3 separate regions of the Homo sapiens genome follow, and regions 1 and 3 are each linked to region 2. The links come from fine-mapping of genetic effects on gene expression. A gene starts in region 2. Each other region holds a variant in brackets. All regions are shown on one strand. Distances are between the middles of the regions. Region 1 holds the start of LOC124901145 (a long non-coding RNA gene). Region 2 holds the start of HK3 (hexokinase 3). Region 3 overlaps UIMC1 (ubiquitin interaction motif containing 1).

Region 1 (10,375 bases), 89 kb after region 2:
GCTAGGATTACAGGTGTGAGCTGCCGTGCCCGGCCAAGAAACGTTTCTGAAAAATCAATAAAGATGTAAAGAAATGCTCAATCTTGCTAACCAAAAATATGTCATTTTTTGGCCAGATGCAGTGGTTCACATCTGTAACCCCAGCACCTCAGGAGGCCTAGGCAGGATTGCTTGAGGATGGGAGTTTGATACCATCCTGGGCAACATGGCGAAACCCCATCTCTACAAAAAAAAATACAAAAATTAGCCAGGCATAATGGCTTGAGCCTGTAGTCCCAACTACATGGGAGGCTGAGGTGGGACCAGGAGAAGGAAGGTGGAGTGAGCTGAGCTAACACCACTGCACTCCAGCCTAGGTGACAGAGGGAGACCCTGGCTCTAGAAAAAAAAAATATATAGGAGAAAGAGAAGAAAATCTGAAGGAAAAAACAATGACTTAATTCACTGCCTTTGAGATGAGACCTGCAGGCAGGCAGAAAACTCCAATAAACAAATAGAAATACAGGATAAAGGAAAAAGGTTACAATCTTTATTCCGGAGAATAAAGCTTTCTAAAATGATAAAAATGTTGTATAGCTCTGCTGTCTAATACAACTGACACTAGCCTTATGTGTCTTTAATCACTTGAAATGTGACTAGTGCAACAGAGAAGCTGATTTTTAATTTTAGTTATTTTTAAACAGCTACAGATGGCTAGGTGCTATTATATGTAGAACATATCAAGAGACTTAAGAACATTCACGTGTTTTTCCTCTCACTTTCTAGACACATGAAAACTAAGATTTACAATTGATTTAGATGATTCAAATAGTTCCAAAATGCCACTTTGGATTACTATATTATAAAACTGAAGAACTATGATCCATCCTCAACCAAGCAACAGGATTACTACCTTAAGTAATTCTTCATTCCATTTACAAATTAAAACAAAGCTGAGTAAAAATTTCATGGTTTTGGTGAGCTGGCATTAAGGTGAAGTCAGTCACGAAACAAACTCCCCATGGGTAAAGAAGCATAGTTTGAGAGCTACAGCTCTACTTTTCAGCTCTACTTCACTAACCTCTCCATCACTATCGGATATCACAATGAATGCATCCTCAAGTCTACGCTTCCTCTTCACACTGACAGAACTGGTAGTTTCCACATCCTTCTTCTCCAGGTTCCGAGATTCGGAGACTTCTTTAACTTTTTTCTTTCTCCGTGGCATCCTTTTGTCTAGAATAAAAGGACAATAATTTTGTCTAGAATAAAAAGATCATAATTTACTTAAAGTATAAGTTTTCTAGAAGCTATTCAACTTAGTCTTTTTTTGAGATGGTCTCGCTTTGTTGCCCAGGCTGGAGTGCAATGGCACGATCTTGGCTCACTGCAACCGCTGCCTCCCAGGTTCAAGCAATCCTCCTGCCTCAGCCTCCCGAGTAGCTGGGACCACAGGCACACGCCACCACACTGGCTAATTTTTGCATTTTTAGTACAGACAGAGTTTCACCATGTTGGCCAGGCTGGTCTCAAACTCCTCACTTCAGGTGATCCACCCGTGTCAGCCTCCCATAGTGCTGAGATTACAGACATGAGCCACCACATCCAGCCTAATTTTTGTATTTTTGTAGAGACTGGGTTTCACCATGTTGGCCAGGCTGGTATTGAACTCCTGACCTCAGGTCATCTGCCCGCCTTGGCCTCCCAAAGTGTTGGGGTTACAGGAGTGAGCCACCATGCCCAGCCTCAATTTAATCTTGTAAAAGAAAAAGATAACCCTATCTAACAGAAGCAAAACTGCATTTCTTAACTTGTCTACTACTCATTAAAAATATAGCCCTCTCCCTCTCCCCCTCCCCCTCCTCCTCTCCCTCCTTTCTTCAGTCTCCCTCTGTTGCTGATACTGCCACGATCTTGGCTCGCTGCAACCTCCCTGCCTCAGGCTCCCGTGATTCTCCTGCCTCGGCCTGCCAAGTGCCTGGGATTCCAGGCACGCACCGCCACTCCTGACTGGTTTTTGTATTTTTGGTGGAGACCGGGTTTCGCCATGTTGACCGGGCTGGTCTCCAGCTCCTGGCCTCGGGTGATCTGCCCGCCTCGGCCTCCCGAGGTGCTGGGATTGCAGACGGAGTCTCGCTCACTCAATGCTCAATGTTGCCCAGGCTGGAGTGCAGTGGCATGATCTCGGCTCGCTACAACCTCCACCTCCCAGCCGCCTGCCTTGGCCTCCCAAAGTGCTAAGATTACAGCCTCTGCCCGCCCGCCACCCCATCTAAGAAGTGAGCAGTGTCTCTGCCTGGCTGCCCATCGTCTAGGATGTGAGGAGCCCCTCTGCCCGGCCACCCCGTCTGGGAAGTCAGGAGCGCCTCTACCCGGCCGCCACCCCGTCTAGGAAGTGAGGAGCCCCTGCCTGGCCGCCCATCGTCTTGGATGTGAGGAGCGCCTCTGCCCGGCTGCCCCGTCTGGGAGGAAGTGAGGAGTGCCTCTGCCCGGCCGCCACCCCATCTGGGATGTGAGGAGCACCTCTGCCCGGCCACCCCATCTGGGAAGTGAGGAGTGCCTCTGCCCAGCCGCCCCGTCTGGGAGGAAGTGAGGAGCGCCTCTGCCCGGCCGCCCCGTCTGGGAAGTGAGGAGCGCCTCTGCCCGGCCGCCCCGTCTGGGAAGTGAGGAGTGCCTCTGCCCGGCCGCCCCGTCTGGGAAGTGAGGAGTGCCTCTGCCCGGCCGCCCTGTCTGGAAAGTGAGGAGTGCCTCTGCCCGGCCGCCCTGTCTGGGAAGTGAGGAGCGCCTCTGCCCGGCCGCCCCGAATGGGAAGTGAGGAGCGCCTCTGCCCGGCCGCCCCATCTGGAAAGTGAGGAGTGCCTCTGCCCGGCCGGCCCATCTGGGATGTGAGGAGCGCCTCTGCCGGCCGCCACCCCGTCTGGGAAATGGGGAGTGCCTCTGCCCGGCCGCCCCGTCTGGGAAGTGAGGAGTGCCTCTGCCCGGCCTCCCCGTCTGGGAAGTGAGGAGTGCCTCTGCCCGGCCGCCACCCCGTCTGGGAAGTGGGGAGCGCCTCTGCCCGGCTGCCTATCGTCTGGGATGTGAGGAGCGCCTCTGCCTGGCCGCCCCATCTAGGAGTGAGGAGTGCCTCTGCCTGGCCGCCCCATCTAGGAGTGAGGAGTGCCTCTGCCCGGCCGCCCCATCTGGGAGGTGTACCCAACAGCTCCGAAGAGACAGCGACCAACGAGAACAGGCCATGATGACGATGGCGGTTTTGTCAAAAAGAAAAGGGGGAAATGTGGGGAAAAGAAAGAGAGATCAGGTTGTTACTGTGCCTGTGTAGAAAGAAGTAGACATAGGAGACTCCATTTTGTTCTGTACTAAGAAAAATTCTTCTGCCTTGGGATGCTGTTAATCTATAACCTTACCCCCAACCCCGTGCTCTCTGAAACATGTGCTGTGTCAACTCAGGGTTAAATGGATTAAGGGCAGTGCAAGATGTGCTTTGTTAAAAAGATGCTTGAAGGCAGCATGCTTGTTAAGAGTCATCACCACTCCCTAATCTCAAGTACCCAGGGACACAAACACTGCGGAAGGCCACAGGGACCTCTGCCTAGGAAAACCAGAGACCTTTGTTCATGTGTTTATCTGCTGACCTTCTCTCCACTATTATCCTATGACCCTGCCACATCCCCCTCTCCAAGAAACACCCAAGAATGATCAATAAATACAAAAAATAAAAATATAGAGGAATTTTTTTTAGAAAAATATAGGGAAAAAATG[GT/G]TTTTTTTTCTATAGAGAGAAACATAGACTGGGCACAGTGGCTCATGCCTGTAATCCCAGCACTTTGGGAAGCTGAGGCAGGTGGATCATTTGACGTGAGGAGTTGGAGACTATCCTGGCCAACATGGTGAAACCCTGTCTCTACTAAAAATACAAACATTAGCCGGGCGTGGTAGCGCATGCCTGTAATCCCTGCTACTCAGGAGACTGAGGCAGGACAATCACTTGAACCCGGGAGGCGGAGGTTGCAGTGAGCTGAGATCGCACCACTGCATTCCAGCCTGGGCAACAAGAGGGGAATTCTGTCTCAAAAAAAAAAAAAAAACAACTATATAAATATACAAATCTCATTCTCCATGGTGAAATTTCAGTATCAATAATATAGTCATGTATCCTAGTTCTTTAAACATCAATTTAGATAATTGCTTTTCTTGACTACATATTATAATTTACCTACAAGTTTTTTTTCTTTTTTGAGACAAGGTCTCGCTCTGTCACCCAGGCTAGGGTGCAGTGGCATGATCGTAGCTCACCACAGCCTCATCCTCCTTGGCTCAAACAACCCTCCCACCTCAGCTTCCTGTGCAGCTGGGACCACAGGGGTGTGCCAGCACACCTGGCTAATTTAATTTACTTTTTATTCCTTATAAGATAGGATCTCACTATGTTAACTAGGTTAAGATTTTTTAAATACCAAATGCCTCAACCTGATAAAGGACTTCTACAAAAATCCCATAACTAATAAGCTAACATCATGTTTAAAGGTACAAGACTGAATGCTTTCTCCTTTCGACAAGGAGCAAGACAAGAATGTTTCCTTTCAGCTGGGCGCAGTGGCTCACCCCTGTAATCCCAACACTTTGGGAGGCCAAGGCAGGAGGATCACTTGAGGTCAGGAATTTGAGACCATCCTATGCAACGTATTTTTTTTTTTGTAGAGACAAGACATGGCATCCTGTGTCTACAGGATAGAAGGCCGTCGTGGGCTGATCACCTGAGGTCAGGAGTTCGAGACCAGCCTGGCCAACATGGTAAAACCCCATCTCCACTAAAAACACAAAAATTAGCTCGGCGTGGTGGCGTGTGACTATAATCCCACCTAATCCAGAAGCTGAGGCAGGAGAATCACTTGAACTCAGGAGGTGGAGATTGCAGTGAGCTGAGATTGTGCCACTGCACTCCGGCCTGGGTGCCAGAGTAAGACTTCATCTCAAAAAAAAAAAAAAAAAAAAAAAAAAAAGTAAGGCACACTGGTGAGCACCTACAGTCCCAGCTACTCAAGAGGCTGAGGCAGGAGGATAGCTTGAGTGTGTTTGAGACTGCCATGAGCTATGATCATGCCGATGAACTTCAGCCTAGGCAACTGGGCAACAGAGCAAGACCCTGTCTCCAAAAAAAAAAAAAAAAAAAGGCTGGGCACACTGGCTCACACCTATAATCCCAGTATTTTGGGAGACCAAAGCAGGAGGATGGCTTGAGCCCACAAGTTAAGAGACCAGCCTCATCAACATAGCAAGACCCTGTCTCTACAAAAAATTAAAAAATTAGCTCAGCATGGTGGCATGCCTGTGGTCCCAGCTACTGCAGCCTGGGCAACAGGGCATGGTTCTATCTCAAAAAAAACAATGTCTGCTTTAATCATTGAACATTATACTTAGGGTTCTAGGCAGAACAATTAAGCAAAGAGAAATAAAAGATACTCAACTTAGAAGTAAAACTATCACGATTTGCAGATGACATGACCTGTGTTTAAAAAAAAACACTAAGAAACACATTAAAAAACTATTATAGGCCAGGTACAGTGACTCACACTTGTAATCCCAGCACTTCAGGAGGCTGAGGCGGGCAGATTACTTGAGGTCAGGAGTTTGAGACTAGCCTGGCCAATATGGTGAAACCCTGTCTCCACTAAAAATACAAAAATTAGCCAGGCGTGGTGGCGGGCGCCTGTAATCCCAGCTACTTGGGAGGCTGAGGCAGGAGAATCACTTGAACCCGGGAGGCAGAGGTTGCAGTGACCCAAGATCGTGCCATTGGCACTCCAGCCTGGGCGACAAGAGCGAAACTCCATCTCAAAACAACAACAAAATCAACAGTTCATCAAGGTTATCTTGCCTTGTATCAATGCAGGAAACAAGTCAACATACAAAAACCAATTGCATTCCTATATGCTAGACATAAACAATCAAAACTGAAATTTTAAAAATTATATTTCTGGCTGGGCACAGTGGCTCATGTTTATAATCCCAGCACTTTAGGAGGCTGAGGCTGGTGTATCACTCGAGGTGAGGAGTTTGAGACCAGCCTGGCCAACATGGTGAAACCCCATCTCTACCAAAAAATAAAAATAAAAAAACTAGCCAGGCATGGTGGTGCACACAGGTAGTCCCAGCTACTCAGGAGGCTGAGGTAAAAGGACTGCTTGAACCCAGGGCAGAGGTTGCAGTGAGCCAAGACCACACCACTGCCCTCCAGCCTGGGTGACAGAGTGGGACCCTGTCTCAAAAAAATAAAATAAAAATAAACATTAGCCAGGCATGGCAGCTAATGCCTGTAGTCCCAGCTACTTGGCAGGCTAAGGAGGAGGGATCACCTAAGCCCAGGAGGTTGAGGCTGCAGTAAACTGTGATCACACCACTGCACTCCAGCCTGGGCAACAGAGCAAGACCCTGTCTCACAAAAAAAAAAGACATCAAACGTAAAAGTAGCCCAGCAGAGTGGGCTGTAATCCCAAAACTCTGAGAGGCCAAGACTGGTGGATCACTTAAGCCCAGGAGTTTGAGACCAGCCCAGGAAACACGGCAAAACCCTATACAAAAAATACGAAATGTAGCCAGATGTGGTGGCGCACTTGTAGTCCCAGTTAGTTGGGAGGCTCAAGTGGGAGGATGGAGGATCAATTGAGCCCAGGAGGTCAAGGCTGCAGTGAACCAATATCCGTGCCACAGCACTCCAGCCTGGGTGACAGACTACGCCCCTGTCCAAAAAAAAAAAAAAAAAAAAACTCAAATCATTAATCATGAGGGAAACGCAAATCAAAACCACAATGAAATATCACTTTATACCCACTCTGATGGCTGGCTATTTTTTAAATAATGGAAAATAACTAGTGTTGGTAAGGATGCTGGAGAAACTGGAACTCTAGTACACTGTATTATTGATAGGATGTAAAATGGTGTAGCCACTATGGGGAAACAAAAGGAATGAAGTATTAATACATGCTACAACATGGATGAACCTTGAAAACATGCCAAGCGAAAGAAGCCAGACATAAAAGGCACATATTGTATGATTCTATTTATAAGAAACATCCAGAATAGGCAAATCCATAGGCAGAAAGCAGATTAGTGATTACCAGAAGATGAGATAGGGGAAAATGTACAATGACTGCTTAATGGATATAAGGTTTATTTTGGGGATGATAGAAATGTTCTGGAATTAGAAAGTGGTAATTGCACAACACTGTGAATTTATTAAAAGCCACCAAATTGTACACTTAAAATGACTGAAATGGTAGATTTTGTTAGGTGAATTTTTTTTTTTTTTTTTTTTTTGGAGACAGAGTCTTACTCTGTTGCCAGGCTGGAGTGCAGTGGTGCGATCTCTGCTCACTGCAGCCTCCACCTCCCGGGTTCAAGCAATTCTCCTGCCTCAGCCTCCCAAGCAGCTGGGGCTACAGGCATGTGCCACCACGCCAGGCTAATTTTTGTATTTTTAGTAGAGATGGGGTTTCACCATGTTGGCCAAGATGGTCTCGATCTCTCGACCTCATGATCCACCCACCTTGGCCTCCCAAAGTGCTGGGATTACAGGGTAAGCCACCGTGCCCAGCCTGTTAGGTGAATTTTACCTCAATTTTTTAAAAAGGGGAGCCCCGGATGATTTTATTTTACAGCCAGAGCAGAGAATCACTGACTCAATCACAGATTTAAATAAAGCCACCTTAACTTTGTAACAAACTTCTCAAACCATTCAATTACTCCTAAGGGGGTTGTTACATCTTATTATCAGAAGTAGTCTGTACAATACTAGCATTAAAGTTTTTCTAAAAAAAACACTTAAAGGATTAAAAAATTCTAAATTAAGGGATAGTAACAACATACACACACAGATGCTTACAATTTACAAAATCATTCCCCATGATAAAACTCGACACACAAACGTCCTTTTCTGCATTTAATGCATATTTTTAATGACTAAAGAACAAGAAATTACAAAGATGAAAAAATTAGCCAGGCGCAGTGGCTCAAGTCTGTAATCCCAGCACTTTGGGAGACCAAGGTGAGAGGATCATCTGAGGACAAGAGTTTGAGACCAGCCTGGACAACATGGTGAAACCCCATCTCTATTAAAAATACAAAAATTAGCTGGGTGTGGTGGCACATGCCTGCAGACCCAGCTACTGGAGAGGCTGGGGCAGGATTGCTTGAACCCAGGAGATGGAGGTTGCAGTGAACCAAGATCACACCACTGCACTCCAGCCTAGTCAACCGACCAAGACCCTGCCTCAAAAAAAAAAAGAAATATACTTTTAACTTCTGTATTTAAATACAGTTAACAGAATATTTATTGCATATGCAATGCAGAGGTAGCTAGTTATTATTTAAGTATACATAAATTCATACTAAAGCAGTAACATCTCACTAGATAACTAGATATGACCTATCCACTATGGTCTAAATGTTTGTGTCCCTCCAAAATTCATATGCTGACATCTAATCCCCAATGTGTTGGTAAGAAATGGGGCCTGGGGCCAGGCGCAGTGGCTCACGTCTGTAATCCCAGCACTTTGGGAGGCCGAGGCAGGCAGATCATGAGGTCAGGAGATCGAGACCATCCTGGCTAACATGGTGAAACCCCGTCTCTACTAAAAATACAAAAAAATTAGCCAGGCGTGGTGGCGGGAGCCTGTAGCCCCAGCTACTCGGGAGGCTGAGGCAGGAGAATGGCGTGAACCCGGGAGGTGGAGCTTGCAGTGAGCCGAGATCGAGCCACTGCACTCCAGCCTGGGCAACAGAGCGAGACTCTGTTACAAAAAAAAAAAACAAAAACAAAGAAAGAAATGGGGACTTAGGGAAGTCATGAAGACACAGCACTCATGAATGGGACTAGTGCCCTTATAAGAGAGGCCTAAGAGAACCTGTTTGCCCCTTTTACCCTTCTGCCATGTGAAGACACAGCAAGAAGGTCCCATCTTTTAAGCACAGTGCAAGCCCTCATCAGGCACCTTGATCTTACATTTACCAGACTTCAGAACTGTGAACAAAAAAAATTGTATTGTTTATAAATTACCCAGTCTAAGATATTCTGTTATAGCAGCAGGAAAAGGTTAAAAACCTATCAAGTTACCATTACACAAATTAAAACACAAATAAGATGACATATTTGTACTTCCTAAAATAAATTAATTTTATATTAATTCGCAAGAAGTGAATTTTCTAAACCCCAAACTGTAACAGAAATGGAAAAAACACATGCAACTTTGTACAAATGTTGCCATATTTCTAATATAAATAGATTTTATATTTATGTTTTTGTTTCTTGAGATAGGGGCTTGTTCTGTTGCCTTGGCTTGAATGCAATGTGTATGATCATAGCTCACTGCAACCTGTAACTCTTAGGTTCAAAGAATCCTCCTGCCCCAGCTTCCCAGGTAGGTAGGACTACAAGAGTACACCACAACACTCAGCTAATTTTTTTTTTTAAAGAGATGGGGGTCTTGCTGTGTTGCCCAGGCTGGTCTTGAACTCCTGGCCTCAAACGATCCTCCTGCCTTGGCCTCCTAAAATGCTAGGATTAGAAGCACAAGCCATCATGACTAATCAAGTCCTCAGTTTTATTTTTTATTTTATTTTTTATTTTTATTTTTATTTTTTTTGAGACAGAGTCTCGCTCTTTCGCCCAGGCCAGACTGCAGTGGCACTATCTCGGCTCACTGCAAGCTCTGCCTCCCAGGTTCACACCATTCTCCTGCTTCAGCCTCCTGAGTAGCTGGGATTACAGGCGCCCGCCACCACGCCCGGCTAATTTTTTTTGCATTTTTAGTAGAGATGGGGTTTCATCGTGTTAGCCAAGATGGTCTCGATCTCCTGACCTCGTGATCCACCTGCCTCAGCCTCCCAAAGTGCTGGGATTACAGACATGAGCCACCAAGCCCGGCCTCAGTTTTAATTCACCTTACTCTACCTTTTTAGATTCAGGTCTGCTACTACCATAATGAAGACTACCCAAAGAGCAAATCTCTTTGGGGAGAAACAGCAAAGACAACTGAGGGGAAAGAATATGAAATCTGGCAAATTGAGAAGACAGATCTGACCAGCCTGGGCAACACAGAAAGACTGCCTCTCGATCACCTGAGGTCGGGAGCTCAAGACCAGCCTGACCAACATGGAGAAATCCCATCTCTACTAAAAATACAAAATTAGCCAGGCATGGTGGCACTATTGCATTCAAGCCTGGGCAACAAGAGTGAAACTCCGTCTCAAAAAAAAAAAAAAAAAAAAGGCCAGGCGCGGTGGCTCACACCTGTAATCTCAGCACTTTGAGAGGCCGAGGCGGGCAGATCACGAGGTCAGGAGATCGAAACCATCCTGGCTAACACGGTGAAACCCCAAGTCTACTAAAAATACAAAAAAT
Region 2 (10,365 bases):
AATGGGAAACAGATCCCTAAGAAGGCGAATCATCCTAACTGGGGTGCCAGATGTCCACTTACACGTTTGCCTTACAGCACATGCTTCCAGCAGCCATGCCTGCTAGGGGTGCCCATGCCCACTCTATCTCACCCTGACCAGGCCTATCTGGTGACAAGGGAAAGAGAAGCTGAAGCCAAGCTGCAGACCCTGTTTGCTCACAGGCTGCACATCCAGGAACTCAGGCAGTGGGCAGCAAAGTCAAAGAGCTGCAGGACAGGCGGGGTCTCAGCCTTGCCCCTCTGAGCCCCAGCTGCCCAAGTGTTAGAAATATGGAAACGGAGACTCCGAGAGGGCAAGTCATCTGCAGGGCCAAGCAGCTGTGAAGGGGCAGGGGAGAATTTGAACCCATATCTACCTGAATGCAGAGATGTTTCTATGTCAATGTGAAGCTTTATAAAACCTAGAAAGTTCCCTTGAAAAGAACTCAAGGCTGATGAAAGTTGCTGGAAAGAAACCCCAGATGATCCGGCTTGAGAAAACTTACAGCTGAGTCCTCGCACTCCCTTTTTCTGGCTCTGCAGTCCTGGGAAAGTCACACCTCTCTCTGAGCCTCAGTCACCTCTTCGTGCAAAACTGAGAAAATAATAGTACTTGGAAGTCCCCCAATGCCAGGGACTATGTCTTGCTCAAGGCTACATCTGAGGGCCACGAGGAGCACCAGCTGGAAGCAGGATTTGTTGATTGGATGGTTGTGGTGGCATAAGAATTAAAGGCTGTAATGTATGTGGAAGTGCCAAGTGCCATTGGGATGGGAGGGGCGTTTTAGTATTGCTTCATGAAAACAGTAGAGTCACGGAGAAGTCAATGGCTTGGGCAAATTGTTTTTCTTCCTTTTCCTCTTGGGCATATTGAGATGTTCGGGAGGAGAGACTAGAAGACAGCAGAACTGCAAGAAAGACAGAAGGACTTCCCTGGCAGATCCTGGTGAGGCACACACAAGCCAGGAGAAGCTATCGGAGCCACCCCTGACACCCCAGGAAGAGCAGGGAGAGACCTCAGACAGAAGAGCAAGGAGAAAGGCATTAGAGAGCATGTGAAGTCCAATGTGGTTTCAACACTGGCTCTTGTCACCAACTTGCTGTGTTGCTGGCCTGGGCCCATCACCTCACCTCTCTGAGCAAGCAACCCCTCTATCTAGCAGGAACAATAGTACCTACTTCTCAGAGATGCCATGAGGACTGAGACGACAGCAAACCTGAAGTGGAGGAACAGTGTCACACATAGGAGATGCTCAGTGGAACACGGATTCCCTGTCCTCAGAGCACAAAGCACACCCAGCCTGGAGAGCCTGACTCCATACCCTCTCTGATGACAAAGAGAAGCCTGGTGGAAGGGGTGGGGAAGGGCCTCTGAGATGGTACTGGGAACTGGCCACACGTGGTTAACTAACTTTTTTCAACCTAAGGTCATGGCAAGGGGAGCACAGGGTAAGGCCTGTGGTGCTGAGTTGGGGGTCCAGGACCATGGGAAATTTGGTGTCCCTGTGAAGTCCCCCAAAGCCGAAAGGGATTCTTTCAACCGCAGGTGTATGTGATGGAGCCAGCAGGGCAGATGTGGGCCTGCACAGGAGTGTCATCAGGGAGGGGCAAGAAGCGAGGGAGGAGATGACAGCAGGCCCTAGAGCCAGTCCTGGCTGGGCAGGCACTGTGGCCCAGCCACCGCTGTCACTCCTGAGGCACGGCTGTGGGTCAGGCACAGAAGAACTGTCTGCAGCAGGGTCTGGGGTACAGGTTGGACAAGGGGGAAGTGGGAGCATGAAATGCAGCGAGGGGTAATGCCTCCACAATCTGGGCAACAAGCCTAGTCAAGTGGATGTCAGAATATGCCAGAAAACTAAAGAAACTGCAGAGAATGACTCAAGTACCCTTTAGTGGGCACCTCCTCTATGCAAGTCCTTTTTTTTTTTTTTTTTTTGACAGAGTCTCGCTCTGTCACCCAGGCTGGAGTGCAGTGGTACGATCTTGGCTCACTGCAAGCTCTGCCTCCCGGGTTCACACCATTCTCCTGCCTCGGCCTCCCGAGTGGCTGGGACTACAGGCGCCTGCCACCATGCCCAGCTAATTTTTTGTATTTTTTAGTACAGACAGGGTTTCACCGTGTTAGCCAGGATGGTCTTGATCTCCTGACCTTGTGGTCCGCTCACCTCGGCCTCCCAAAGTGCTGGGATTACAGGCCTGAGCCACTGCGCCCGGACTTTTTTTTTTTTTTTTTTTGAGATGGAGTTTTGCTCTTGTTGCCCAGGCTGGAGTGCACTGCCACAATTTTGGCTCACTGCAACCTCTGCCTCCCGGGTTCGAGCGATTCTCCTGCCTCAGCCTCCCAAGTAGCTGGGATTACAGGCATGTGCCACCATGCCGGCTAATTTTGTATTTTTAGTAGAGACGGGGTTTCACCATGTTGACCAGACTGGTCTTGAACTCTTGACCTCAGGTGATCCACCTGCCTCGGCCTCCCAAAGTGCTGGGATTACAGGCGTGAGCCACCGCGCCCGGCCATAGGCAAGTCCTTTATCTCCATTAGCCTTCAGGGGGTGGGGAGGATTAGACTTTATTTTCCTCCATTTTACTGATGAGGAAACAGAGACTAAGAGATATGAAATGGCTTACACAAGAGTTTCCTGCTCAAGGGTGTGGTATGAGACAGCTTCTAAATCTTGGTCAAGATGACAGAAAAAGAAGAAACTCACTTCTGAGCAAGCCTCAGGCATGAGTTTGGCACTAAAATCGTCTGTGTGCCTGATTGTAGCGGCTACATTGAGGGAGACATGCAGGAGGAACTGGAGAGGCGGGAAAGGAAAGGTCTCAAGAACACAACTTTTGACCAGATAACCCTGAGAAAGTCCACTCTAGACTGTGTCACCCACTTGGGGCGGGAGCGGCACCTGTGTGGCAAGGTGGCAAAAATGACATGTTTGGAGCTGAAACACCTCAGCTCAAGCTCCTGTCATGTCTTAAACTCAAGTCATAACACTTCTCTATATCCCTCTTCATCACCTGTAAGATGATCAGCCCAACCTTGCAGTTGTTTGGAGCATGAAAGGAGATCGTTACCAGCTCAGATATGAAAAGCTCAGTGGAAAGGGGCTGCATGGGTGAGAGCCCAGGGCCCCATGGCAGCTTCAGTCACGCTGCTCTTGAAGGCCTTAGACAAGCATGAAACAGGAACCCAGTGCTGAACTTACCAGCTCTGAGCTGTCTGAGGGCCCGGGCAAGCCCTCCTCAGAGCAACTCAGGGTTTCTTCCCCCTGCCGCAACCCTGAAGACCCAATGGAGTCCATGAGCTTCCACAGTGGAAGGTGGCCACCTATGGGAGAAAAGGGACAACCTGGGTCAACCATTTACTCTATAGGCCCTAGGAGTCTGTAACCCAGACCAACTTCCTTCCTTCTGAAGGGGACCAGGAAGGAAGCTGGGAGCAGAATTCAGAACCTCCAACCATCAAAGATCCTGTAGCAGTCAACCAGAAGGCCCTTGTTTTTCACAAGCATGTCTAATGAGAGAGCACTGGAAAGGCTGATTTCAGTCCAAATGCCATTCGTTAATTCTGTCATTCATTGACATTCACCAGTTCCTGATGCCTGCTATGCTGGACGTTGTGGTACAGATGAAGCAGACCTAGGCCCTGCCCTCAGGGACCTCACAGTCTCATCAACAATCACAGTATGATTAGCACAGGCAGTGAGCAAGATGGCCACATGTAATAGATGGACATGCTGCTGTGGTTGGGAGGTCAGGGACATGCTAGAGGCTTGGAACAAAGAGGGAACCAAAGACCTGCCAGAGAAGCAGGCAGGCTGGAAAAGGGACAGCCATTGTGCCAGGCTAAGGCACATGAATTTCATCCTGAAGGCAACAGGGGTCATGGACAGGGGTGGATCTGTGCTTCAGAAAGGGGTTCCACTAGTGACCTGACCTTGGACGTCATTTATGACTTCTTTGAATTTCAGCTTCCATCCATAAAACAGGAGGAAATAATATCTACCCTCACAAGGTTGTTGTGAGCACTAAATAGAATAACACCTGGGGAAATGCTTTATGAGATGTAGTGTGCAACATAAACATCAGGTGGGTTTTAACAGTGAAGTGATGCAGAGCAGAAAGAGCCCTGTACTCAGAGGTGGGAACCCTGCTCTCCACAAGGCAGCTGCACCCCATCTCAACCTCCAGGCTTTTCATCTGTGAAATGGGACCAACATGTATCAAAGGGTTGTGTGGGGCAAATGAGATCACGAGAGCAAAGGAACTTGCTCAGATGTGCATTCAGATTTATGTAGTTGAATCTGAACTGAAACTCTATGATTCTCCATTTCCTCTATAACATGAAAAGCTCAGTTCTTGTGAGGATTAAAGGAGTTAGTGGTCCTTTGCACACTGTAAGGAACTGTAGAAATGTCAGATACTTCGCTCATCCGAGCTGGAGGTGGTATTGCTGTTTCCATAGTCCCAAGGGAGCCCTCAGTGAGTCAGGTGCTCTTTAGGGGTGGGGGAAAAGGGAAACACAGCAGAGGGCCCAATATGGGAAGAGACATCTGTCCACTGAGTCACTTTACCTCCCTTCCTTGCAACAGCAGAACTTCTGGAAATATAGTACCTTCCCACCCCTACACTCCCCTCCTTGCCTACTCCCACTATGCTCACTAATTTGCCCTCCACGTGGTCACTGGTGACCTCCTAACTGCCCAATCCCAAGCCTTTTCCTCAGTCCCCACCTCTGCTGCCCTCTCTCAGGCATGCAAAGCCAGTAGTCATTCTCTTTGCTACAGAATTCCCCCTGTCCTTGGCTTTCACGGCCAGTCTCTCCTAGGTCTCCTTCCTGAGTCTCTCGTAGTCTTCATCAGTAATTTCTGTTCCTTCAGACAATGGGGTTCCCAAGTTTCGGTCATGCCCTCCCTCTACACTCCCTTTATCTCGCCCATTCCCAAGGTTTCATTAATAGCTGTGTCAGGGCTCCCAAATCTACCTTTGGCCTCAGCCAAATCCTAAATCCCAGTGGTCTGTTAGACATCACTATCTGGATGGTGGAGAAGCTCCTCAAATTCAACAAAGCCATACTCATTTTTCCATCACCTTACCCCCACAAAGCTCTTCTGTTCTCCACCTTGACTGGAGACATCGAAGTGTGCTCACTCACACGGCCGTTCGGGCTGCCTGCGCGCATCCCTCACCCTCACCTCCTCTATGCAATTGGATCTCAGGCTCTCTAAGAGCTCTCCTCTGCATCCCCTCCTCCCCATTCCCACACACTGCACCAGACCATCCTCCGGCCTGATTATTACAACAGCCTCCTAAACTGATAGCTCTGCTTCTAGTTTCTTCACCTCCTTACCCCACCCAACTTGATCACCTCTGCACTCATGGCCGGCACAGGGTCTGGTATAGGTATGTGCTAATGTGCCTTTCCAAAATTGGAAGCAAGGGGAGTGGGTAGTTTTTTATTTAATAAAGCAACAAATCAGCTTCTGATAAATCTCCCCAAACCATACATACCTATGCTGAGTTTCCAAATCTGTCAAATAGGGGTGTGGAATTCTTGTTCTATGCTGCAGGTCTATTTCAAGGATAAAATGAGGTAACTGGGGCAATTACCTTCGAAAAGGACTAAGGGCTACACACGTGTCTTTCTCAAGGCCCAGCTAGTTCATTTATTCATTCACTCACTCATTCATTCCCTCATCCATTCAATATTTATTCAGCATTTTTACATGACAGAATCTGTGAAGCAATCCCCAAGTAGCCCTAATATTTATATGCTAGGTAAATGTATTCAGCTCTGTCTCTTCCCACTGAGATTCCCTGTGGGGAGGGACATGTCTCCTTCACTGCAGTATCCCCAGAGCCCAGGGTCTGTTTGCCTAAGGGCCCCGTGGCTTCCCTTAGCTGAATGGGCTACACGAAGTGAGTTTTCCTCCTGAAAAGTACCCCAGGGACCTCTACTGATGTTGGGAGCTGCCATCGAGAACCAGCTGGCAGGCTGGGTGTGGTGGCTTGCACCTGTAATCCCAGCACTTTGGGAGGCTGAGGCAGACAGACTGCTTGAGCCCAGGAATGTGAGACTAGCCTGGGCAACATGGCAAAACGCCATCGCTAGAAAAAAATAACAAAAATTAGCTGGGTGTGGTGGTGTGCGCCTGTAGTCTCAGCTACTCCGGAGGCTGAGGTGGGAGGATCACTTGAACCCAGGAGGTCAAGGCTGGAGTGAGCCCTGACTGTGCCACTGTACTCCAGTCTGGGTGATAGAGAGAGAGACCCCATCTCAAAAACAAAGAAAGAGAACCAGCTGGCTTAATCTTTCCAGTGTCCACTTCCCCTGGTGTGAGCCAAACAGGAGGGATGAGGACAAGACAGCTGTGGAAGGAGCAGGCAGTAATTAGACCGAAGTGCTTACCTGGGACACAGAGAAGCTAGTCACTCTCCTCAGGTCTGAGCTCTTGTCTGGCAATATGAGGCACCCCAATGACCAAAAGCAACACTCAGGGGTGACCCGAGTTATAATATCCTCAAGCCCCACCCTTTTCCTCCACCACCACTTACCAAACATCAGCTAATTCAGGAAGCTGCACTTCCTTCCAAGCCTGCCCTAAGAGTAGCCCAGGCTAGGCAAGGCTGTGGTGAAAACTTGAGCAAGATGATTACCGCGAAGTGGAGCGTTGAACTGGGTCTAAGATTTTGGGCCATTCCCTCTACAATGCTGAGGGCTGTTTATTTTGCAAATATAGTGAGTTCTGAGGTGGTGGCTCGCCCCTAGAAGGAGCTGGAGGCGCCTAGCCTGGAAAGGTTATGGTAAGTACTTTTGAGCAAGAGGCAATGTGGGAGCACAAGCGGAAGGGACTGACTCTGCCGAGAGTGGGCAGGGCTAGCTGAAGAAGCTGAGTCTTGAAGAAAGAACAGCAGTATGCTGACAAAAGTGGTCCTTGACAAAGTGGAGAGCATGTGCACAACCACAAATCACACACACACAGCAATGAGGTGCAGCTCCAGGCGCCTGAAGAGGGTACACCAAGGTAGGAATATATAGTGGGAGAGGAGGTGACAGGCAGACTGCGGAGTCTAGCCTTTAGTCTGTAGCCTGCGCAGGGAGAGTAGGTTCACATCTTAGGTCTTCTCTACTGGAAGAAGGGGAGTGTTAGGCTGCTGTGGAGCTATTGGCGAACAAGCTGTTTTTCTGTGGGAATTTCTCCTCAAAGGCACAGAACCTTGGGGCACCAATGTAGAATACTAGACAGCCTGCAACAATCTTTGTTGAAGGCATGGATACACTTTAAAGCTTCAGGCTGCCTTGTCAGCAGTAACTCTATCCACAGATAGTAGGCCTCCACATGACATCAGGATGGAGACCAGAGATAGTGGCTCCTCTATCAGTAGTGGCATGAAGAGGCCAGGAAACATGCCAAACATCAGTCCTGCTGTGAAGTTTACTGGGTACCAACCAGGCATATAGGCTGTGAAAGGCAGGGAAGTGGGGGATGGGGTGGCAGAGGGTAGAGTGGCTGTCACAAACAACACAGCATCCTGCCTAGCCTGGGATCCCAGTCCCTTTCAACTTTGTTCAGTTGGGAGAGGAGAATGTGGAACTGACTATGAAAGGCCCAGCTGTGATTCATGCAGATAGCCTGCCATTTCTTGAGCCAGGGTGAGGATATGCCCCTGACAAGCATGGCCAGGGCTCTTCATCTGCGTTTCTGGAAGGTCTGTGTCCAGACCCCAGGAGCAGGGGTCCTGGTTCCCTAGTCAGAATGCCAGGGAAAGTCTGGGTCAAGGCCAGTGGAGGGAGAAGGATGGCTGAGCTTGAGGTCTGTGAGCAGCTGGGACAGCCTGGCTGTAGCAGAGGCACTGCAGCTGCCAGCGGTTCTCTTCAGACACCAGATGGCCACTGACCAACAAAGGGAAGGACAAGTCCTCACGAGGTTCCCTCATAGCCCCTTAGTGCCAATCTCCAACTGTAGAGATGGAGCTAAGGAATGAGGAAAGGCAGTTTGCTGGGGGAGAGGTGGGCACAACCAGAGCACTGCCGATGGGCTGGGAGGTCAGGCCTTCCCTCTGCGCTTGCTCACAGGCTTCTCACCACTCACAGTGCCCATGCCAGGCACAGAGATCCTCAATAAGCTCCCCCAATTTGTTCCACACCCTTTATACCGTGAATGTGCCTTGCAGCTCTCCTACACACATCGAGCTACTTCTGTTGTGTCTTTGTTTGCACTGACTTGTCTGGAATGACCCTCCCTTTGGCCTCTCCCACCTTTTCACCTCATTTTTCCTCATCCCTTAAATTATAATCATCAACGACAATGAGGAGCCCTTCTCTGAAAAGCTCCTCCTGGCCGACCCCAGCTGAGTGTGGTCTGCTTATTGGTTCCGTATTATGATGCATGTTCTTGTATCACTGCATTTATATCTGTTTATTAAAGGCATCTGTTTATGTGTTCTTCTTCCCCATTGTACTATGGGCTCCCAGAGAATGTTTCTTATTCACCCGTGCAGCCTCAGACCTCAGTTCTTTATCTGGCAAGGAACAAGTATCAATTAATTTTTGTTAAATTGAAGAGCCCTCCCACAATCTCAATAGTCCACGGCTGGCCAAGCATGATGGCTCACGCCTGTAATCCCAACACTTTGGGAAGCCGAGGTGGACGGATCACTTGAGGTCAGGAATTCATGATCAGCCTGGCCAATACAGTGAAACCCCGTCTCTACTAAAAATTAAAAAAATTAGCCGGGCGTGGTGGTGTGCACCTGTAATCCCAGCTACTCGGGAGGCTGAGGCAAGAGAATTGCTCGAACCTGGGAGGCAGGGTAAGTTGCAGTGAGCCGAGATCACGCCACTGTACTCCAGCCTGGGTGACAGAGCAAGACTGTCTCAAAAAAAAAAAAAAAAAAAAAAAAAGTCCAGGGCTTTTGAAACTGAGAGGAAGCAAGCAAGCTCTTACTGTCTTCCTGGTGCATATGGTTTCAGCAGTCTTTCCACTAGTCCATCTTTCCACTGACAACTACAACCCTCTCATCCACTTACTACCTGCCTTCCCCTCCCCAAATTCCCATCTGCTAACAACCTAAGGCCAAAGCTACCCTGATTCACAGGCAAAAATGAGCTCATCCAAACCTGAAATTTCCCTTGAGTCATTAGTTTTGTGACTGAAATGAGAAGTAGGAAGTAGTGTGCTATAGTACAGAAAGCTTCAGCTCTGGGGTCAGGCAGACCTGGTTTCAAAATCCCATCTCATTACCAACTGAAAGACCTTAGACAAATTTCTTATTCCTCTGAGCCTCGGTTTTCCTTGTATAAAACTTGGAGACTGATGTCTTCATAGGATTTGCTTTAGGTTAGGTAAACCCAGAGGCAGACCTAATTTGAATGCAAATAACTTTATTTGGGAAGTGATCCAGGACAGGGCCAGAATCAGGGCAATGCAAATGATATGCCTAGGGTACAGAATGTAAAGAGACCCTCTCAGGTTCATACGGGTGCCAACCTTGCACTTAGATGAACCCAAGAATAAAGGCTCATCACCCTAGTCCCAGTCCTGATCAGGAAAATACAGAAGAGGAGCTGGAAGCCAGGTAGGAAGAGAAAGAAGCCAAGGAAGTGTACGTTAATTGTTACTGGGAGCTTAGAGAGGTTCACTCCCACAGGGAACCCTGAGAAATAGGTAGAATGTGCCTTAGAGTTGTCCCTCACTGAGTGAGGAAGCTGGGGTATCTATCCTCCCACTTCCACTGGCTGAGAGCTGTCCCAGGGGCACTAACTCCCTGGTACTCTCAGCTTGTGCCAACACAAACCAAGAGAAGTCCTCAGGCAGAGTCTCAGGTACTTGCAACAGGACTCTGTGGGTATACAGCAGAATGGCGAATGCCTGGGGGAAATGGGCGAGGCACAACCTCTGCTGGGGCTGCTGTAAGGACTAAATGAAAAAGCACAACTACAGCGCCTAACAAAGAGAAGTCCCCCTCTATCTCTTCCAATTTACGGCAATAGCTTGTGAAGTTTATGGAGCTTCCCAGCTCTCCGTGAGTTGGCAGCATCAGCAGAACAGCTATTTCTCATCTTTCAGAAGTAAAAGAAATCCAGGGGCCCTAGGAGAACTCTAGATGCCTGGGACCCAAGTTTCCTGTGGAAGCCTGATGGTTGATGGAGCCCGAGTAGTCCCTCCTGAGTACACATTCCTCTGAAAACTATCTCCTCTTGCATCTGCACCCGTCCCCCATCCCTCCACCCCTCAGTGCAACATCATTTGTGACACATAGACTAGCATCACATTAATAACTGCTGCCACTAACTCATTCTTCTATGTGATGACATTGTGCTGGATCAAAGCTTTATCCACATTAT
Region 3 (8,000 bases), 57 kb after region 2:
AAAATATAAAAATTAGCTGAGCATGGTGTCGTGCACCTGTAATCCCAGCTACTCGGGTGGCTGAGGCAGGAGAAACACTTGGACCAGGAAGGCAGAGGTTGCAGTGAGCCGAGATCGTGCCACTGCCACTGCAGCCTGGGCAACAGAGTGAAACTCCATCCCAAAAAAAAGAAAAGAAAAGGAAAAATATACACACCGAGAATCTTAATCAGAAGTATGAACCTGTATCAATCAGCTTTATGGTTACTGCCAGATATGTAAAGTGAGGAAAGGTAATGATGCAAATAGATTTATTTTATCAGACAGCTATCTTGACTTTGCATTTCTGATCAAATTAGGGCTGGAAGTTATGTATACATCATAATATAAATATAGTAATTTTTTCCAAGACTGTTTGTCTCTGTTACTTATTGGTACATAATAAAAAATGCCCTGTAACTTTGGATTCAAACCCGTGTTCAAATTATATTTCTACCATTATTAGTAGTATGATTTAGAGCAAATTAAACATCCTAAGCCTCTGTTTCCCCATCTCTAATAGAAATAATAATGCATACAAAAGTACTCAAGAAATGGTAACTACTGTTATTTTTAGAAACAATGCTGAACTAATCTTAACTATAAAAATCTCTCCCTAACATAAGGGCCCCCAAAACTAAAACCCCCTGCCACCTAAATCTTTTCAGCCAATGTCAACGTTGCATCAGAGAGAGGACTGCCAACGGAAAGAAACCACTGAGAAAAAATATAGAGGAAAATATTCACCTCCTTATCTGCCATTATTATTCTGACTCCATCCAAGATATCTCTGCTACCTGGAGAGACTTCTCTTTCAAGGTCAAAAGTTTCAGAGGAACTTAGCTGGGTCTCTGTAATTTAAAAAAGTTAAAATCCCATTAATTTTCATTTTGTGTTTTCATAATTAAAAAAACAAACATGCCTATTTTCACCTAAAGTTTAGGATATGACAATACTGTGGTGGCAATATATTAATAGATCTAGTTTGTTTCTTCTTAAAGCTTTACTGAGGCATAATTTACAAATAACAGAATTCATAAATTTTCAGTATACAGTTTAATGTGTTTTGACAAATGTATACCATTTATATACTACCATTTATACCATGTAACCTCTACGATAATCAAGATATAAAACATTTCCAACACCCCAAAAAGTTCTCTGTACCCCTCTGCAGTCAATCTCCTACCTCTTTGGTCACTGCAATGAACTCTTTATAATGACCAGTTTACTTTATGTTCCTATAATTTTGTCTCTCATATAAATAGAATCACATGTCTTTTGTGTCCAGCTTCTTTTACTTAGTATAATGTGTCTGAGATGGACCCATGTCGTCACATAATATCAATAGTTCATACTTTTTGCTGCTGAGTAGCATTCCATTGTATAGATATATCACAATTTGTTTATTCATTGACCAACTGATCAACTGGCTTATTTCCACTGTAATTCTAGTTTTAAAGTATACTGATTTGACAGAAAACAAGAACCTGCCAATGTTAGTGCTGAGGTTAAAGAGATGATTAGCAAAAACAGAAATTGGGACCAGAAATAGAATATACATTCTAGACAAAGATATGCCTTTCTTTAATATATTCTTTAAGCAGCATCTATTAATTCAACAAATAATTGAACATCAAGTCCCAGGCATTATACTCGCTATCAGTAATATGAAAATCTAAGATGGGGTCCCTTGTAGTCTAGTTCAGGGGCCAGAAAACTAGATACAGCTCATGGGCCAAATCCTGTCAGCTGCCTATTTTTCTAAGTAAGGTTTTATTGGAACACAGCCATGCTCATTCATCTATGTACTGTCTATGGCTGTTTTTGCACTAAAATGGCCGAACCAAATAGTCTCAACAGACTATACGGCCCACAGGGCCTAAAATATTTCCTATCTAGTCTTTTATTTTTAAAAAGTTTGGCTGGGCACAGTCACTCATGCCTGCAATCCCAATGCTTTGGGAAGACGAGGCGGGAGGATCACTTGAGGTCAGGAGTTCAAGGTTGTAATGAGCTATGATCACACCACTGCACTCCAGCCTGAGTTACAGAGTGAGACACTGTCTCACACACACAAAAAAAAGTTTGCCAACTTCTGCTGTAGACACATATCACTTAATATAACAACAATAAAAAAAATAGTAATTATCTTTCAAAACCACCAATGTATCTGGAAAAGAAACATTACAGACTGAATGTTTGTGTACCCCCCGAACTTCGTATGTTGAAATCCCAACCCCTAATGTGATAATATTAGGAAATGTGACCTTTGGAAGGTAATTAGGTCATGAGCATAGGGCCTTCCCTCAAAAGAATGGGATTAGTGCCCTTTTATAAGGGACCCCAGAGAGCTCTCTCACCCTCTTTCCACCATGTGAGGACACAGCGGGAAGTTGTCTGGCTCTCACCAGACACTGAATCTGCCAACTCCTTGATCTTGGACTCTCCAGCCCCCAAAACTGTGAGAAATAAATTTATGTTGCTTATAACCCACTCAGTCTAGAGCATTTTGTTACAGGAACCCAAACTAAAACCAGACATTTATTTCAGAATGCAAATCCAGTAAGTTCTCTGTTATCTGACACTATACCTGCTGTACCTCTAATTAGCACTTTGCTTCACAAAACAATAAATGGCCAATGTCAGGCAAATAGGGCATCTGCAAGTTTCTAATGTATCTTCTGAATCATTAAGAAAGGATTAAATACATTTCTAGAATTAATTATATTTTAATACATCACAAATTTTTTTGAAAACTGGACACATACACACACACACACACACACACACACACACACACACCTTATTGGAAAAAGGCTTACAGGACATAAACTTCAAAATCCTGTCAACTTTCCCTAAAGGTATTTTCAAAAAGATATTCAGCATATTTAAAAGTAAGAACCATTCACTGCTTAGATTACTGCAATAATAAAAAGTCTTCAATTATGCTTTCTGTGAATGGCTGAAATGTCCAACTAAGAGGGCATTAGCTTCTCAGAAAAAAGCAATGCTAGAAGCATGCAAAATGTAGGCATAAGGCTATAATCCTGCTTCTTCAACTAAGTAACACTAAAAAGATATTGTAATCTTAAATATTAGACTCCTGAACTGTCAGAAATATGAAACAAAAGTAAACAGGTAACAGTCTACTACACTAAATATGTGTTTCACCCATTTGGAACAAATTTTTTCAGATAATTTATATATATAACTTCTAAATTATATATTTAAAAAGAAACCCAGGAGTTTGGCTTCATGGTGAAGCAGTTATACTTTCTTAGCAAAAGGAACATTAATGTAATGAATACCTTTTGCAATCTCATTTAGAAGTGGTTTATGTCAGCAAACAGTTGGACTTAATTAGCAGGCTAATGACAGCAAGTCATGATCATAAAAGCTATCTAACCTCAGTATGAAGGGCCTGCTTTTCCCTCTCATTAACTAGGCCTTTCAAGATCAATATATTTGCAGGTTCCTCCTGCAAGATCCCATGGTGATGTCACACGCCATCATCCTAAACAGACTGAGTGATTTCCTTCTAGGAAGTCAGTAGTCCCAGACAGAGGGGGAAAGCTTTCTTTTCACAAAGGTAGCACAGTATTCTTGAGTGCTCCTGCCAAAATCTGAGCACTCGGTAGTGTAGTCTCTTAGTGGGTATTGTTAGGCAGTAATCCAAACACATTTCAAATGAATTAAGGAGCCACTTTCAATAAAAACCAACATAGGCTGAGCACGATGGTTCATGCCTAATCCCCAGCACTTTAGGAAGCCAAAGCGGGAGGATTACTTGAGCTCAGGAGTTTAAGGTCAGCCTGGGAAACACACCAAGACCTCGTCTCTACTAAAAAAAAATAATAATAATAATTTTTAAAATTAGTTAGGTGTGGTGGCACATGCCTGTAGTCCTAGCTACTCGGGAGGCTGAGGAGTGAGGATCATTTGAGCCAAGGAGTTCAAGGTTACAGTCAGCGAGCCATGACTGCGCCACTGCACTCCAGCCTGGGCAAAACTCTGTCTCAAAAAAAAAAAAAAAAGAAAAAAGCCAACATAGTCCGATTTTTAAAATAAATAAAGACCTTTATGATAGACTGCCAGATGTTTAAAAATATTTATAGGTCTTTCCTAGATTACATGCAAACTAAGTTTGAGTCTCTGTGGAAAAACATTGAAGGAAACCAAAATAAGAAAACTATGATTATCTCTAATCCTTATAGGCTA[T/G]ACGAGACCTGAGGGAAAACCAGATGTGACTTAGGGCAACATCTGTATACTTGCTGTTCAAAGTTAAACATCAGTAGGAAGTCCCTCAATCTCACAGGAATGAGGCTAATGATCTTTTCAGAAAAGCCAGAAAGGAAAATATAGTCTAAAACAAATTCCTTAGAAAGTAGTGGTTCATATCACAAAATAATGCTTCATATTATACAATGATTCAGGAGTTTCTTAGATGGTAAGTATCTTAGTTCATTTTACATTATTTTGTATATCTAAATCTATCCATGTGCAACTTTGAATGAGCATCTCTTCTACCTAAAACAAAGTACCTATCTTTTAATTTTTACAATTAACAAAAAGCAAACTAAAGCACTTAACGAGGTTAAGCATCTTAGGTCTAAGATTAAAAATAATGACAGAACATGCACAAAACTCAATTTCTGAACCTCCTATGCAGTAAGACCCCAACAAATGGCAATATAAAAACTAACTACTAAAAGGCTGTGAAGTCCAGGCACAGTGGCTCACATCTGTAATCCTAGCACTTTGGGAGGCCAAGGAGGGAGAACTTAAGCCCCGAAGTTCAAGGCTGCAGTGAGCTATGATTGCACCACCGCACTCCAGGCTGGCTGACAAAATAATTTAAAACAATTTAATTTAAAATAATTTAAACAAATTAAATAACAAAAGGCTCTGAATGTACAGTTAAGCAAATGCTATTCCTGATGCTTTGCTGCCATCTCTGATGAGGCCTGTAAACAATCAAGAAGACAAAAAAAGTCATGTTAATTTCAAAACTAAATTACCCCTAAGGAGAGAAAAGATTGAGAATAAAAGCCAATGGCCATTAAAAACACCTATATGTGTATACGCATACGAGTGTTGAGACATGTACATACACGTATCAATTACATACAAACCTCCAGAGAGTAGGTTTGAAGAGTCAGAGGAAAATTAATAGGCATGAAAAGGTAAATAGGTATCAGAAATTCAGTAAAATCACAGTGGGGTACTTACCAGGACAAACAGTGATTTCTTCTGCAGAACTCTCTGGCATAAGGACTAAGCTTCTCTTACTGGTCAAAGCAGCAACACTGAAAGAGAACCAAATCCCAAATGAATTCCCAGTAAAATAAATCAGAACATAGAGCCAAAAGCAATGGTGAGTCACTCACAAAGCCACAGGTAATCACAGATACTTGCTGCCTAATACCACAAAAGCACAATAGGAAAGCAAGGAATCAGTACTGAAAACTCCAGACCAGAAATATGGAAAATAAATATGCTTACAACTTCAGTTCCAGTGAAATCACTGAATGAAAACAAATTCCCTTTTGGAGTTTTCACAAAGGAAGGTTGAAGGGTGAGAACTGTCTGTGAATATCAGAGAAGGCAAAAACTCCACTCCAATATAAGGATGTCAAAGGTGTTTTATAGCCTCCATCTCAGCCTTCTGAAGGCTAGAGATTTGTAAACTGACAAGAGAAGACACAGAGATTCTTCTGACAACACACTTTCTCCTCCTTTTGCAGTTAAATCTCCTCTTTATCTCAAGATGTTGCTTTCCATGCAACAAAAATAAAAAACAATTCCAAACTGCCCTACAGCAAAAATCTGCCCACATAAATTGAATCTCTTTTCTAACAAAAACTTAATTATGAATGGCTTCCTTCATCCAACCTTCTGGTTTTCCCTGACTGCTCATGGAGTGCAATCTCTTCCTGACATAGGAATACATGGCTGATCTGAGCATCTGAGCTAGCCCCCTCATGCTTCACAGGGCTTTACGATTAGTTTGATCAAGTATGCAAGAGGATGCTTGAAAACAAAAATCCTCACATCAACCAAGAACCACAGAGAAGACAGAATAGCTACAACTGAACTCATGATAAATAACTAAATCCTGATAGAAAACCACAAGTGATTTATCTCTAAATAAAACATCTCATAGCATTTGTTATAAACCCCAGCCAGACAGTTTACTCTGCATGTAACATTAGTGCTCTATTCAAAGGGTCCATCACAAAACAATTTTCTGACATTTATAAAATGGGCTAATCAATTTGAAGTCAAACCACATTGCCTGCGATTCCAACTCTCTCCTGGTGACAAAGTGTATAATCATTTATTAAAACCTACATCTGCTCTGCACAAGGCTCACCACAATAAAGCAGAGAGGCCTATAGGGAGTAAAGGCATACTCTGTTAAAACCACTTCCAAAACTGTCTTAACAGCAGGAAAATCAAACCAAAGCCATATTCTTTAGCCCAGGAAGGAATACCAAGTACTATCAACCAGAAGCCTAAGAAAGACCACCACCTTGACTACAGCAAATGGCAAGTGGGCTTCAACTCTCATATGGGAGAACAGTCATGCAGTTCAAAACTAAGCTCTTGAGAAAGTCTCAAAACTCAACTACTAGATAAAAAGGGCAAGTGGAAAGTAACTGGAAGCATGATCCAGTTAATAGTGCAGTTTATAATTAATCAACTGCTATCTATTATTAAAGTAAGAAGACTTAGAAGGTAAGCCCATCAATCAATCAGCAAGAACAATGGAGGAGGTAATGCAAATACCATCCTTTACAGGAGATAGGAGGCACAAACGGATTAAAAGTGGCACAGGACAGACAGTGAGAGTGACACAGGTCCTGTGTGGCCTGAATAATATGAAGACTTTGAAGAGGATGTTAAGTCTCAAGAGTAAATTTAAAAGATGTATAAGGTTTAGATATACAGATAAAATAAGCATAAGCAGAGTTGGGGAAAAGAGAGAAAGGGGCTAAGAATAGAAGGACTATAAAGAAATCAGTCTAGAGCCTTCAAATTGGCATAGAAAACTAGTGTAATTAGTTAAGAGAATTGCAGGATGTGACCGCTTTTCAGAAATAATGTAAATGAGATTTATGCCAAGATAGCTGGCCTGGACAAGATGACCTCTAGGATCTCTTCCAGCTCTTAATATTCTGGGCTTCTATGAGATGCACATCTGAGAACTTAGAGATACTAATAAAATTTCTCCTAGTCTTCACTTATAAAAGAGCTAAAAGTTCTCTGGCAAGCTGTCCACGTACAGTCTCACTCATGTGGTTCATCTCCCTTATGCTGGCAACCATCAGAGGAGAATGCATAGCAACATATAATCTCTCACCTTTGTGAAGCAGGTACAGAGTTTCCCTCTTCAGAAGTTTCTTCAACAATCCCTTGGGAAGACTGCAAAGAAATACGTAGTATCTTAAATATACAGGCACAGGTGAACTGGCTTCTCTTCCTTTTTTAAAAAAATTTAATTGTTCAATGTTCTCCCTCAACAATTAACAATAAGAAGAAAATATTTTCCATAAGCCAGTAAGTGTCAATAAAACAAGCACATCCTGTAAAGTCAGAAGACTGGTATTTAAATCAGAACTAAATCACTTACTAAATTTGTGATTGGGTAAATGACATCTGAATCTCTTTCCTCATCTTAAAATGGGTATTAACAATTGCCTCACAGAGTGTTGTGAAAATTAAACAAGATAATGTACACAATGCACTTCATAACATGCAAGACCTGTATCAATATTAACTGGTAAGTCAAATGAATTATGATTTCAGAAAAACAATCAAAAAGTTTGCATGGGGGAAAGGAAAATATAGAGAAAAGTTCAATTTTCAAAGGAAATACTGAGTTGAGATAAACACTGCAATCTATGATCTTTGAGAAAAACCAAGCCATAACACAGGACATCTAAAGGGAAGGTTACAAAGATTCTTTTTGCTACAAA

Evidence for each region. PIP is the estimated chance that this variant, and not a neighbour inherited with it, causes the effect.
Region 1: its variant is fine-mapped to the expression of HK3 in whole blood (TOPMed, PIP 0.91).
Region 3: its variant is fine-mapped to the expression of HK3 in whole blood (TOPMed, PIP above 0.99).

Annotation. Positions count from the first base shown.
Region 1 is chr5:176,981,409-176,991,783 of GRCh38, forward strand. UIMC1 (ubiquitin interaction motif containing 1) reads right to left here. Exons shown (of 15, transcript NM_001199298.2): 2 at 1,061-1,215. The coding sequence starts at 1,207. LOC124901145 (a long non-coding RNA gene) reads right to left here and starts at 1,054. Exons shown (of 2, transcript XR_007059073.1): 1 at 1-1,054. RefSeq lists a silencer at 3,347-3,547. The variant GT/G (reference allele first, on the strand shown) is at 3,739.
Region 2 is chr5:176,892,841-176,903,205 of GRCh38, forward strand. It overlaps HK3 (hexokinase 3), which reads right to left and starts at 6,506. Exons shown (of 19, transcript NM_002115.3): 1 at 6,427-6,506; 2 at 3,224-3,345. The coding sequence starts at 3,319. RefSeq lists an enhancer at 7,326-7,827.
Region 3 is chr5:176,950,709-176,958,708 of GRCh38, forward strand. It overlaps UIMC1 (ubiquitin interaction motif containing 1), which reads right to left. Exons shown (of 15, transcript NM_001199298.2): 7 at 7,385-7,446; 8 at 5,251-5,327; 9 at 766-869. Among named protein-coding and RNA genes, the nearest start is that of UIMC1, 52 kb to the right of the region's middle. The variant T/G (reference allele first, on the strand shown) is at 4,240.